Homo sapiens: one gene and its partner. The protein of the gene in region 1 interacts with the protein of each later gene in a pairwise test. Each region holds a gene or a part of one and is shown on either strand. Other genes may lie near its edges.

What was found. Proteins that work in one complex are often made in the same cells at the same time.
Region 2: the proteins of DNAAF11 (region 1) and PODN interact in binary tests that used the Homo sapiens proteins (3 or more experiments, as listed by UniProt).

Annotation. Positions count from the first base shown.
Region 1 is NC_000008.11:132,665,519-132,672,558, reverse strand, and holds part of DNAAF11 (dynein axonemal assembly factor 11), read left to right. Parts: intron 1-7,040. UniProt on the Homo sapiens protein: Involved in dynein arm assembly, is important for expression and transporting outer dynein arm (ODA) proteins from the cytoplasm to the cilia. Acts as a crucial component in the formation and motility of spermatozoal flagella.
Region 2 is NC_000001.11:53,079,180-53,086,001, forward strand, and holds the end of PODN (podocan precursor), read left to right. Parts: intron 1-1,513; exon of another isoform or gene 1,514-1,548; coding exon 1,549-1,697; intron 1,698-2,801; coding exon 2,802-2,982; 3' UTR 2,983-3,009; intron 3,010-5,333; 3' UTR 5,334-6,315; downstream 6,316-6,822.

The DNA of each region.
Region 1 (7,040 bases):
GCCCAGTGCCACACAGTAAGTGGTATATCTGGGATGGTAAGCAGAGCCCGCACTCTTGTGTATGTTTGCTATATTGTCTCTTAGGAGTAAGAGACAGTTTGGTGAGAAAAGGAGAGGTCATGGTGCAAATTCTCATGTAAAGTTGAAGAGACCACTATTTTTGATGTTTGTGTCTGCTCAGGAGGACCAATATTGAGCCTGGGGATGGTGGCAAGAGGAAAATGAATTAGTTCCTCTCTGTGCATTTAATCTGGTGTGTGTTGTGATTTAGAGAAGATCTAGTGTCTTTATTCTTAAATTTTATACTATTGAATGCATTTTGTATTACTGGGACACATTTGTCATCTATAGATCTTCTTTGGTGAAATGTCTTCAAATATTTTGCCCATTTTATACATTGATTTGTTTTCTTATCCTTGAGTTTTAAGAGTCTTCTATATATTCTGGATATAGGTCATCAGATACATGATTTGCAAGTATTTTCTCCCCACCTATGGCTTATATTTTCCTTCTCTTAATTATTTTGAAAGAGAAGATTTAAATTTTGAAGTTTAATTTATTATTTTATAGATCTTGCTTTTGATGTCATATCCAAGAAATCTTTGCTAAGTTTACATAGATTTTTCTCTTTTTTTTCCTAGAAATTTTATAATTTTTGGTTTTATGCTATTCCATCATTCATTTGACTCAATTTTTGTATATGATGTGAGATGTAGATTACATTGTTGTTGTGTGTGTTTTTTTTTTTAATATGGAAATCCAGTAGTACCAGCCCCACTTGTTGAGGACTATGCTCTCTCCATTGAATTGAACCTTTGGATAAACCAGTGGCTTGTATATGTGTGTTCTCGACTTTCTTTTCTGATTCATTGATTTATTTGTCTTCCTCTGTGCCAATTTCACACTGTCTTGATTACTGGAGCTTTGTAATAAGTAGTCTTGAAATCCAGTAGTGTTTTTCCTCTAAATTTTTTAATCTTTTAAAGTTGTATTCAGATCCTTTACATTTCTATATGAATTTCAGTAGTATCTTGTCAATTTGTACAAAAATAAGTCTGCTGGGATTTTGACCTGAATTGTGTTAAATCTGTAGCTCGATTTGGGGAGAATGAGTATCTTAACAATATTGAATCTTCTGACCCAAAAACAAGGGATATATCTCCATTTATTTAGATATTACAAAATGTCTACAATATTTTTGAAGTTTTCAATGGACAGACTTTGCACATATTTTTCTGATTTATCTCTAAGTACTTCATATTTTTGATGCCATTGTAAGTGTTGAGTATATAGAAGTATACTTGATTTTTTCATATAGATCTTATATTCTGCAATCTTTTCAAACTTTCTTATTCAATTAGCTTTTTATATGAATTCCATTTGATATTCTCTGTAGACAGTCATATCATCTGCAAATAGAAATAATTCTACTTCTCTACCACCTGGATGCCTTGTTTTTCCTTGCCTATTGCTAGAACCTTCAGTATAATGTTGAAGTGGTGAGAACAGATTTCCTGGCCTTTTTTTCTGATTCTTACGGGAAGAGTCTTTCTCTGCTCGATATAATGTTGATTATAGGTGTTTTGTGGATGCTCCTTGTCAAGTTGAGTTCCTTTTTATTTCTGGTTTTCCGAGTTGTTGTCTTTTTAAAATTGGGAATGGATGGTGGATTTTGTCAACTGCTGTTTTGTCTCTACTGACATTATCACTTTGTTAGTTTATTAATATTGTATGTTACTTGGATTTCTGAGCATTATATCAACCTCGTATACATTGGATAACTCCCCCCTTGGTTATAATGTATAATTTTTTTATTATGTTGTTGGATTTGATTTGCAAAATTTTTTTGCTTAGGATTTTTACATATGTGTTCATGAGGTACATGGATCTGTAGTTTTCTTTTCTTGTAATGCATTTGATTGGTTGTAATTCTGACCTTATAGAATATAATGGGAAGTATTATTTCCTCTTCAATTTTCTACAAGAGTTTGTGTATATGGGGTATTATTTTCCCTTAAGTTTTTGGTAGAATTAATCAAAGGAGACATCTGTGCCATAGTTTTATTTGTGGAAAGAAAGGTTTTTAACTACATATCCAGTAGATATAGGGCTGTTCAGCTCATCTATATATTCTTGAGTGAGCTTTTGTAATTTGTGTCTTTTAAGGGATTCACCCGTTTAATTGATGTTCTTGAATTTATTGGCATAAAGTTACCTATAATATCTGTAGAATACATATGATGTTACCTCTCTCACTCCTAATATTGGCAGTTTGTGTCTTCTCTCTTTTTTGCTGATAAGTCTGACTGAAAGTTTACCAATTTTATTTTCTTAAAGAGCCAGCTTTAATTTTTATTAATTTTTCTCTATTTTTTTCTGCTTTTCATTTCATTGATTTCTGTTATAATCTTCATTATTTACTTTCTTCTGCTTATTTTGGGTTTAATTTGTTCTTTTTCTAGATCCTTAAAGTGGAAGCCAATATTTGAGACCTTTCTTTATTCCTACTATAAGTATTTAATGCTATAAATTTACCTCTAAGTAATGTTTTAGCTGTATCCTGCAAATTTTGATATGTTGCTTTTCTGTGTAATTTTTTTTTTTTTTTTTTTTTTTTTGAGACGGAGTCTTGCTCTGTCACCCAGGCTGGAGTGCAGTGGCACGATCTCAGCTTACTGCAAGCTCTGCCTCCTGGGTTCACGCCATTCTCCTGCCTCAGCCTCCTTGTAATTTTTAACTCTGTTCAAAATACTTTCTAATTTTCCTTTTTATTTCCTTATGCCCAAATTTAAAAAATTACTTTTGTATGTTTTGTATAGATTTTTAGGCTAGAGGGTAAACCCTGTTTTATTACTCTATTATGTCCAGAACCTGACGTCACTGCTAATCTTATGATGAAGTACTGGTCCTAGCCCTCAGCTTTCTCTGTCCTCTGGTTTCAGGAAATGAAAACCTCTTCATAGTGCTCCCAGTCCAGTCCTCTGGTTTCACACTTCCTCTCTCAGCCTTTCCTGATCAGTTGTGTTTAGCAGCAGCCTTTATACAATACAATATAATTGTCCTTTAAGTTACAGTTTCTCTCACATTTCTCTAACACCTGACATGTTACACTTACTAGTACATTCCCTTCCACTTGTATCCTATCTCTGTTCAACACCAGTGCAAGTCTTTACAATTGCATAACTGCCTTGGGCCAGGCACTATCTATGTTCTGCCTACCAGGAATAACAGTGTCCTTGCCACTGTGACAACATGTAGTCTGACTCCAAAATCCTATCTTAGCTAGCATCTGCTTTCATGCACCACTTCTGGTATCAACTCTTCCAGTTTAGGCTCCTCAGGAAGCCGATATCTAGGTGGGAATTAGCATGCAGGAGGTTTATTAGGGAGCATTGTTGGGGTGGGTAGGAAAGAAATCAAAATTGAGCAGAGGGGGAAGTTGGGCTGTGATATGTCTAACAAAGGCCTTAGGAAACCAACCAGGAGATCTAAACTTGGAATGAACCTTCTGACTTGCCCAAGTTGGGGTGAAGAACTGGGCCTTTATAGCCCCTACATCAACCAGTCATTGAATGTGGACTTTCCCAGGAAAGGAAAGGCCATGACCTTGGCTGAACAATCTCTTCGCTGAGACAGCTCATGAAGAAGGTGGGCAGCAGAGGGCTGTCTGTCAACAGAGCCCCCAGCAGCTAGAGGAATTAATCCTTCAGTTTTGAAGAGGGACCTGAGAAGTGCATCATGTCATCCACGATGGCCTAAGGTGCCCTTTCCTGGTTTATCTAACAAACATCTACTCACATTTCAAGATTCAGCTCAGGGCCGGGCGCGGTGGCTCAAGCCTGTAATTCCAGCCCTTTGGGAGGCTGAGGGGGGTGGAACATGAGGTCAAGAGATCGAGACCATCCTGGCTAACACGGTGAAACCCCGTCTCTATTAAAAATACAAAAAAAAAATTAGCCAGGCGTGGTGGCAGGTGCCTGTAGTCCCAGCTACTGGGGAGTCTGAGGCAGGAGAATGGCGTGAACCCGGGAGGCAGAGCTTGCAGTGAGCCAAGATCGCGCCACTGGGCGACAGAGCGAGACTCTGTCTCAAAGAAAAAAAAAAAGATTCAGCTCAGACTCCTCCTCCATGAAGCTTCTTCTGACTTCCTTTTTCTCAGTAGCACCGATCACTGTCTCCTGTGCACTCATCATACTTTCTATGTTCTTCTCTCAGTGCCCCATAGCACTTAGTGCTTTTCAGTAGCACACTCCAGTAAGTCGTCCCTAAAGATATCACTAGATTGGGATATAGTACGGCTGTTGCCGCTCATTATGATGAGCCTGGGTCAGCAAGAAAAGACAGGCAAGTGTACAATCCTGCTTTTAAGAGTTTCCATTGAAAATGATTAAAAAATATTTTAGATGCTGCAAGAGGTGACCTTCACCTGTTTGTAACCCCTTTATTTCTATTAACTCTCAATTTCATATACATATCTGATAGGTCTTTCAAGATGTCTGAATGCTACAAAATCTTCAATAAATACATATTAGTTGATTTTATTCTAATCTAGTAGGAAAAAAAGAGTTGTTTACAAAACATGATGTAAAGCCTGAAGGAATGAACACTAAATTATTGGCTTTGGGAGTTTTGAGAACTTTGCTCAATGTAATGAAAAACTTTAGAAACAAACACAGCAGGACAGCCTCCAGTATCCCAGAAACCTCCTCACCGTGCCCTCTGTCCCTGCTCCCTGCAAAGTCATTTTGCTGATACAGCCTCAAATTTTGGAGAACTCATTCATATTAAGGAATTGGAAAGAAACTTAGGTGAGCTGATGTGTTTTGATTAAACCCTTGGATTCCTCCACAGCATCTTTTAGTGAGGGGAGTATGTATCTGTGGTTGAAGCTGTCAATATCCTTCATCAAGAGCTTATTTCTCCAGTCAGACAGATATTGGTTAGCACTCAACCATCTGCATCTTATATTTTGCTGTTTGAAATTTCCTAAAATAAGGAAGTGAAAGCAATATGTTTTATATTGTGCCTTGGCATATTTTTCTTCTATACCACATAATAGGTACTATAATACCATTTTTCTTGAAATAGTCTTATGATAACATATTAATGCTTCCAAAGCATTTTATTATTTATTTCTTTACTTATTTATAGAAGGAAGGGAACTGACATTTATTGACCAATGACTGTATACCAGGCACTGTGCTAAGGGCTTTACTTAATTATTTAATCCTCAAAAAAATTTTAAGAAGTAATGCTAACATTATCTCCAGTTTACAGATGAGAAAACTGAAATAGATGAACAGTTTTGCCCAAATCTACGTATCATAAACAGGTAGAGAATGGTGGGGCAAAGATTTGACATTATCTTTTCATGACAACACTACACATCCCATCCCTTAGGTTATGTTCCAGTTCTAAATAATAGTAGAAGTTCATTCTAAGTTCTTAGCTCTCCAGGGCTCTTTACAATGGACTCAAACTTGCCTAGCTTTTTTATATCTCCCAATTCCTTCAGTGCTGTGCTGTAGCCATAATGAATGCCGCATAATTTACAGAATCTTCTATGGCCTCTCTCCTTCTGAGCTTGCTTCTTGGAATTGTCTTTTATCTGCCCCATTCTCTTGAATAATCTTAATCATCCTCTGTGTCTCAGCTGAAGATAGGAAGCTTGCCATCTTCTCCGAAGTCTTGATTAGAAGCTGTGGGTATCCCTGACCACCCACATGACCCGAGTGGTATGCACACTGTGCTTCTTTCCTGCCTCTTCTACCAGGCAACCTCCATGAAAGCAAGGACTGTCTGCCGTTGTGTCTACAACATCATTACTATATTGTTGCTGCAAAGTGAAAGAAGATACACTTGCTTCCTGGCCTTTGCACTGTGCTGTTTCTTCTGCTCCATTCTCTTCTTTTTTTCTGGTTAATTGTCATGTGTGCTCTGTATCTCTGTCGACATTGCCTGCTTCTGAAGCCGCAGCTGGGTTGGGTGCTTCTCCTAGATGCTTCATGGTATCCAGCTCTTCTCTCAAGCTCATCCTGCACTGTTGTCACTGCCTCTCCTTAATTCTGGACAGAAAATTCCTTGAGGGCAGAGTTTGTATCTTTTTTTTTACTTTTTAATTTAATTTTGTTTTTATTTGACATAATTGTACATATTTATGGGATACATAGTGATGTTTCAATACATATACTGTATAGTAATCAGATCAGGGTAATTAGCATATCCATTATCTAAAACATTTATCATTTCTTTGTGTTGGAAACTTTCAATATCGTCCTTCTAGCTATTTCAAACTATATATTATTGTTTTTAATTTTATATTCAGAGGGTACATGTGCAGGTTTGTTACATGGGTATATTGGATGATGGCTGGGGTCTGAGCTTCAAGTGAACCCCTAACCCAAACAGTGAACATAGTAGCCAGTAGGTCGTTTTTCAACCCTTGCCTCCCCTCCTTCGCCCATTTTGGAGTCCTCAGGGTCTATTGTTTCCATCTTTATGTCCTTGTGTACCCACAGTTTAGCTCCCACTTATAAGTGAGAACATGCAGTATTTGATTTTCTGTTCGTGCATGAATTCACTTGGGATAATGGCCTCCAGCTGCATCCATGTTACTGCAAAGGACATGATTTTTTCTTTTTATGGCTGCATAGTATTCCATGGTATATGTGTACCAAATTTTCTCTATCCAATCCGCTGTTGATGGGGACTTGGGTTGAATACATTACTTTGATATTGTGAATAGTGCTGCAGTAGCACACGAGTACAGGTGTCTTTTTGATTGAATGATTTATTTTCCTTTGGGTAGATACCCAGTAGTGAGATTGCTAGGTTGATTGTTCATTCTATTTTTAATTCTTTGAGAAATCTCTATTCTGTTTTCCATAGGGGTTGAACTAATTTGCATTCCCACCAACAGAGTATAAGTGTTCCCTTTTCTCTGCATCCTTGCCAACGTCTATTATTTTATGACTTTCATAATAATAGCCATTCTGACTGGTATGAGATGGTATCTCATTGTAGTTTTAATTTGCATTTCT
Region 2 (6,822 bases), on another chromosome or scaffold:
TGGAGATGCTGGCTAAGGCGAAGCTAGGCCTTAGGGGAGGCAGGAGGTGGGTCAGGCAGAGGGTGTGGCTGGCATGCCAGGGTGAGCCCAGCCCACCTGCAGGTACAAGAGTGAGGGGCAGAGTACAGGTGGTATGACCGAGCTGAGCTCATCACCTGCAGATACAGGTTTGAGAAGGGCTGTGGAGGTAAGGAAGGTCATGGCTGCAGGTAGGGGCCCTAGGCTCAGGAGGACCGGGGGCCAGTTCGGGTGGTATGTATGGGAGAGTCAAGCTCACCCCTTTGCAGGCACAGGAGTAGGTATGTGGAGAAGGCTGGGCTTTGGGATGGGAGGCAGAGGGGACAGCCTGAGCTGTGGGCCCACCTCACCAGTCTGCAGAGGGCTGGAGGTGGGGATCTACTCATGCTTTCTGAGGCTGGCCAGTCGATGTGGCTGCTGTGACCACATGGTCAGAATTAGGCAGGGATGCCTGGGCACATAGTTCACTTTGGTAACAAAACCCCCAACTCAACCAGTGTGGGTGAAAGAGAAATCCACTCTATACGCTGGCTCATGCCTGAATCTCAGCAGTTAGAGAGGCTGAGGCAGGAGGATCACTTGAGCCCAGGAGTTTGAGGCTTGCCCGGGCAACATAATGAGACCTCATCTCTACAAAAAAATAAACTTAAAAAAATTTAGCCCCGTGCAGTGGCATGCATCTCACCCTGGGGGGCTGAGGTGGGAGGATCACTTGAGCCTAAGGAAGATAGAGCTGGCAGTGAGCTATGATCACGCTACAGCACTCAATCCTGGACGACAGAGTGAGACGCTGTCTCAAATTAAAAAAAAAAAAAAAAAAAAGGAAACTCATCAGAGAACCTGGGAGGGAGGGTGGGGTGCTGCCAGTTTAGGCACTGCCCAGTGGCTTCAGCGGCTCCCTGTGGGAACCCACTTTCCTGACTGCCCTCCCCTGGATGCCAGGCATGTGATGATCTGAGACAGAATGGCCTGGGGCCTGGCTGTTGTGCTGGGGTCACTGTGGGTCTCACACCGTTGCTCCTGACCTCTGCACGTGTGGCCCCTGAGGTCCATAAGTGAGCAGTCCCACTCAAGCAGCTCCCACTGCACCCATCCAGGGCCAGTGGGGTGAGATTCAGAGTCTGGGGGATCCCTGGGCTCTGCCCATTTGAGATCTTTGGGAATGACCAAGTCTAATGGGAATGACAAGTGTGTCAGGAGATAGGACTGTGACACCCAAACATCTTGGCTGTGGGTTTATGTGGGAAGGCACAAGAAGCTGGGTAGGACGTTCATCAATTAGAATAAGGGTTTGGAGTCAGGCACACCCGGCTACAGCCTTTTATAGGTTATGTGACCTTGGAAAGATCACTTAACCTCTCTGAGCCTCTATTTCCCAATCTGGGAAGTGGGGATAATTATAGACACCCCCCCTCCTCCACACAGGGTTATTGTTAGATTTAGATAGGCTGGGGGCTTGGTGGGAGTTTTGTAAGCTGTTAAGTGCTTTGCACAGGTGGGAGTCCCTGACTCCCTTGGTCACCCCTGCAGCTGCTGGACATCGCCGGGAATCAGCTCACAGAGATCCCCGAGGGGCTCCCCGAGTCACTTGAGTACCTGTACCTGCAGAACAACAAGATTAGTGCGGTGCCCGCCAATGCCTTCGACTCCACGCCCAACCTCAAGGGGATCTTTCTCAGGTAGGAGCCCACTCGCGGCCCTGTACACACCCCCGTGGGGCCCACCCTGGCTCCAACGGGACAGTTGATGCACGTGGGAACAGCTTGGCTCCACTGCTGCCTGTGTAACCACGGCTCAGATCTCAAGGGTGGGGACAGTCCTGGCCAGGCCCGATATGGTTCCTAGGTTTGTAAAAGGGCTTTGGAAACGTTAGAAGCCAGTGCGCATGGGCGTTGTGAATGTTACTGTGGCAGAAAGGATGCTGGACAGCATCTTCCTGGTTTGCAGCTGAGAGAGCTGAGGCCCTGAGAGCACAGGTGACTGCTGTGTCTGCAGCCATCCAGGCTGGGTCCGGGCCTCACACTCAGGAATAGATGTTCAGGCCCTCCCTGGCTTCTGGGGCTAAGAGATGGGGATTTGGAGTGATTCGGGGGATGCAGCTCCCTGAGGATATGAGGGGCTTCCATGCAGCAGAGCCAGGGTGGTTCTTCCCAGCACTTCCCACAATCCCTGCCCCCAAATCAGAGAGAAGGAGACAAGGCAGAGATGAGTGTGCTCCCAGGAGCTCGGTTGCCCAGAAAGCCCTGGGCTCGATGATATCAGGGTGGCTTGACATGTGCCTCAGGCATCTGCAGGGTAGCTGAAGCACAGAGAGTGAGGGGCCTGAGATCAGAGCCACAGCCTCCACCTTTCCACCCCTGAGTGTGGCCCTGGCCTGGCTCAGCGCTGGCCTTGCCTTTGTGCCACTCCACATCAGGCACTGCGGTGACCCCTGGCTACCGCAGCCCAGGAGCCTCAGGCCTTGGGGTTAATGCCAGGGATGGCATAGAGACAGCTCCCAAAGTTGTGGCTTCCAAAATAGCAGTGAGAGTGTGCGCAGAGAGAGACCCCTCACTTTGCAGAGACTGGCCCAGAGCCAGCCCCACCACAAGCTGCAGCTGCCCTGACCGGCCTGTACCTTCCATCATGTACTGCGCTCTCAGCCCCTGGCCTTTCCCGCCTGCTGCACCACTTTCCGGGAGGGCCATTCCCTCCCCTGTTACCTTCTGGAGAGGCCAGTCGGGGGAAGGGAGGGTTCCTTGGGGGTTGGGCTCCTGGCATTGACTGCCTCGATGCTCACACAGGTTTAACAAGCTGGCTGTGGGCTCCGTGGTGGACAGTGCCTTCCGGAGGCTGAAGCACCTGCAGGTCTTGGACATTGAAGGCAACTTAGAGTTTGGTGACATTTCCAAGGACCGTGGCCGCTTGGGGAAGGAAAAGGAGGAGGAGGAAGAGGAGGAGGAGGAGGAAGAGGAAACAAGATAGTGACAAGGTGATGCAGATGTGACCTAGGTATGTGGCCTGTATGGGGCAGCACTCACTTCTGCTCCCTGCATTTTCCCCTTCCTGACCCTGGTAGAGGGTCTTTCTGTCCATTCTTCACCCTCTCGCCTCTGCTTCATCCACCCATTTAGCAAATTTATAAGAGCACTTGGGATGTACCAGGCCGTGGGTGAAAGGTTGAAGCCTACGGGAGGCCCACACCTTCCAGAAGATTCTCACCCAGCATGAGGGTGCTGTCACGGGAGTGACCGGGGGGCACTGGACATGTGGGTCGGGGCTCAGGAGTGAGGTCTGGTCTGGAGAGAGGGATCCAGGCATTGTTAGCCTTGAAACAATCACTCAAGCTGCAGGGGGCTGGGGAAGCTTGCCATGGGAGAGTGAGTGAGGGGGGCAGGTGACTGAGACAGAGCAGTTAGGAAAGGAGGTAGGAAAACCCCAGACTGCCGTGGGCAGAGGGCATTTGCACATGTATGTAACACAGGCACCTACATGTGCACATGCACACAAATGCACACGGATGCACCAACACACATACATTCATGTGCACACACGTCTCAACATGTACACACATCCACAAACCATGCACAGGCAGAACACACACACCACACACATGCACACAGACACACATACATGCTTGTACCCCATGACACATTTGCATGCCTAGACTATGTACATACGTGCACACACGTGTGTACATGCATGTGAGTACATGCACACAAAACACCCATGCGTACCCACGTATACGGGCCCTTACATGCACACCTGCATGCACACATGTACACATGATGCGTGCATGCACAGGCCTGTCTAGAAGTGGGGACTTGGCTGTGTCAGTGCTGCTGAGGGGCTGAGGGAACTGAGCACTGAGGGAGCTGACCACTGCGGAGCGCCCACTGGATTTTTCCACCTGGAGGCTGTCTGTGACTTTGTAGCAGCAGGGGAAGCTGGGATGAGAAGAGCAGCTGGAAAGGAAGTGGGTCCAGGCACTGCAGACCAGCCTTTTGAGAAGTTTGGCTGTGAGAGATGAGAGAGGGCAGAGGTGGGAATGGAGTGTGAAGTTCAGGAAACGCTCATTTTCTGAGCCTCACAGGAAGCAAAGGCCTCTCGAGGGGAGCCCTGTGTGAGGGGCTCTGGCAAGATGCCCCGACACACACATGCATCTTCCACACGCACCCTCTTAAAGGAGGGGGCTGGCTTGGGTGCTGGTGGGAAGAGGCTGGCCTGGAGGGGGAGTCACCGATGTAGGAAAGAGCTGGCTTTGAGGGCCCCTGTGGGAATGGTAGAAGTTGCTGGCTTTAGCAGGAGGAACAAAGGGCAGGGTGGCTGCTGTCACAGGCAGATTGGTGGCTTGGTGGCCAGATGTGAAGCCATGTCAGCCGGATCCCTCCAGTCTTCCGTTTTCTCTGTGCAGCAGGGAGGTTCTCCGCAGACCAAAGGTATGGAGAAAATGGACAGGTGGATCCACCCACAGCTGAGTTTTTCAGCCAAGAGTTCAGGACAGGAGGGCAAGGAACAAGGGAGTGTGTTGGCCGGAGGCTGGCTGCAGGCATGGGTCCTGGGGTCAGGTTGGGTAGGGAAGGAGGTGCAGATAGGAGGGCTGGTGGGCAGGGACTCAGAGAAAGACATTGGAGAGGAGCCAGGAGCGGCTGTGTGGTCGGAGGAGAGAGGAGAGCTGGTGAGGAGTGAGCCAGGCTGGGGGTCACAGGGCCAGGACGTAGCCGTGGGAGGGGCTGCCGGGCCACTGTTGAGTGTTGACTGAAGTAGGGCCTGGGACGAAGAGGAACCAGAGGGGGCTGTTGAGGGCCACTTGGGTGGGTGACAGAGGGAGCTGGGAGAAGGGCGCAAGTTGATGGTGAGAGAAGAGTGTGCACAGAGTTGGGTATCCGCAAGTGTGGAGGGGCTGGCAAGAGGCTGAGCTTGGGGGTCACCTTCCCCAGCTCCCAGGGCCCGGGAGTATGAAGGTAGAGCTGGTTCTCTGAGGTGTTGTCCTCACACAGAGTTGGGGTGGGTGACAGGGTGACTGGCCATCCAGTGGGGACACCACAGCCCTCATGAGGGGCTGTGGAGTCCTGGGGTGGGTGAGAATCTGCCCCATCTCAGGTCAGTTGAGTGGGGCTCTGGGAGAAGCCCTGGGGAGTGGCTGGTGGGACCCAAAGGCCTTCTGGCACCCCGCTGGCTCTGGGCTCCCAGGGCCAACGCTCCCTCCCTACTCATAGTAGCCTGGCCTTTCCAGAGCCCCCTCCAGCAGGGCTCCCCACAGCAGGTCCCCTCAGGCTGCTTGGGCTGGTGGGTCTGCCCTGAGCTGGCCCCTGACTCTCTTACATGTTCCACAGGACGATGGACCGCCGGACTCTTTTCTGCAGCACACGCCTGTGTGCTGTGAGCCCCCCACTCTGCCGTGCTCACACAGACACACCCAGCTGCACACATGAGGCATCCCACATGACACGGGCTGACACAGTCTCATATCCCCACCCCTTCCCACGGCGTGTCCCACGGCCAGACACATGCACACACATCACACCCTCAAACACCCAGCTCAGCCACACACAACTACCCTCCAAACCACCACAGTCTCTGTCACACCCCCACTACCGCTGCCACGCCCTCTGAATCATGCAGGGAAGGGTCTGCCCCTGCCCTGGCACACACAGGCACCCATTCCCTCCCCCTGCTGACATGTGTATGCGTATGCATACACACCACACACACACACATGCACAAGTCATGTGCGAACAGCCCTCCAAAGCCTATGCCACAGACAGCTCTTGCCCCAGCCAGAATCAGCCATAGCAGCTCGCCGTCTGCCCTGTCCATCTGTCCGTCCGTTCCCTGGAGAAGACACAAGGGTATCCATGCTCTGTGGCCAGGTGCCTGCCACCCTCTGGAACTCACAAAAGCTGGCTTTTATTCCTTTCCCATCCTATGGGGACAGGAGCCTTCAGGACTGCTGGCCTGGCCTGGCCCACCCTGCTCCTCCAGGTGCTGGGCAGTCACTCTGCTAAGAGTCCCTCCCTGCCACGCCCTGGCAGGACACAGGCACTTTTCCAATGGGCAAGCCCAGTGGAGGCAGGATGGGAGAGCCCCCTGGGTGCTGCTGGGGCCTTGGGGCAGGAGTGAAGCAGAGGTGATGGGGCTGGGCTGAGCCAGGGAGGAAGGACCCAGCTGCACCTAGGAGACACCTTTGTTCTTCAGGCCTGTGGGGGAAGTTCCGGGTGCCTTTATTTTTTATTCTTTTCTAAGGAAAAAAATGATAAAAATCTCAAAGCTGATTTTTCTTGTTATAGAAAAACTAATATAAAAGCATTATCCCTATCCCTGCAGCCTGTGGCTATGTCTGTGCTTGCTTCCTGCCAGGTGCTGGCCTGGTGCCGGGTGGAGGGGGCAGGATACAAGCCCCTCAGCGCCCTGGCCAGAACAGCAGACATCAGTGGAAAGTCCAGTTCTCGGGGCCCGCAGAGTAGCTGCACAGGCAGGCATCCTGGGAGAACAGGGCATAGCCTCAGGCGAGGGGGCCTGAGGTGTGTGCAGATGGCCCACTCGGGAATAGTAGGTGAGGCCTGAACCAGCACACGCGGCCTGTGAGCTTGCTGTGCATTCCCAGAGGTGGAGCATCCAAGCAAAGGACCTCATGGGCTTTGGGCCTGTTAAGGGCTCACCTGGAGGGTCATGGGTCACCTTTGCACTGACAGGGTGTTACTAGTGGGTTCTAGAGGAGAGCAGGGGACTGGAGGCAGGCCTGGGAGCTGGAGCAGAGCCGACTTGGGGGCCCAGGTCTCCGCAGACCTTTCCAGGAAAGAGCTAACAGATGCACCCAGTGTG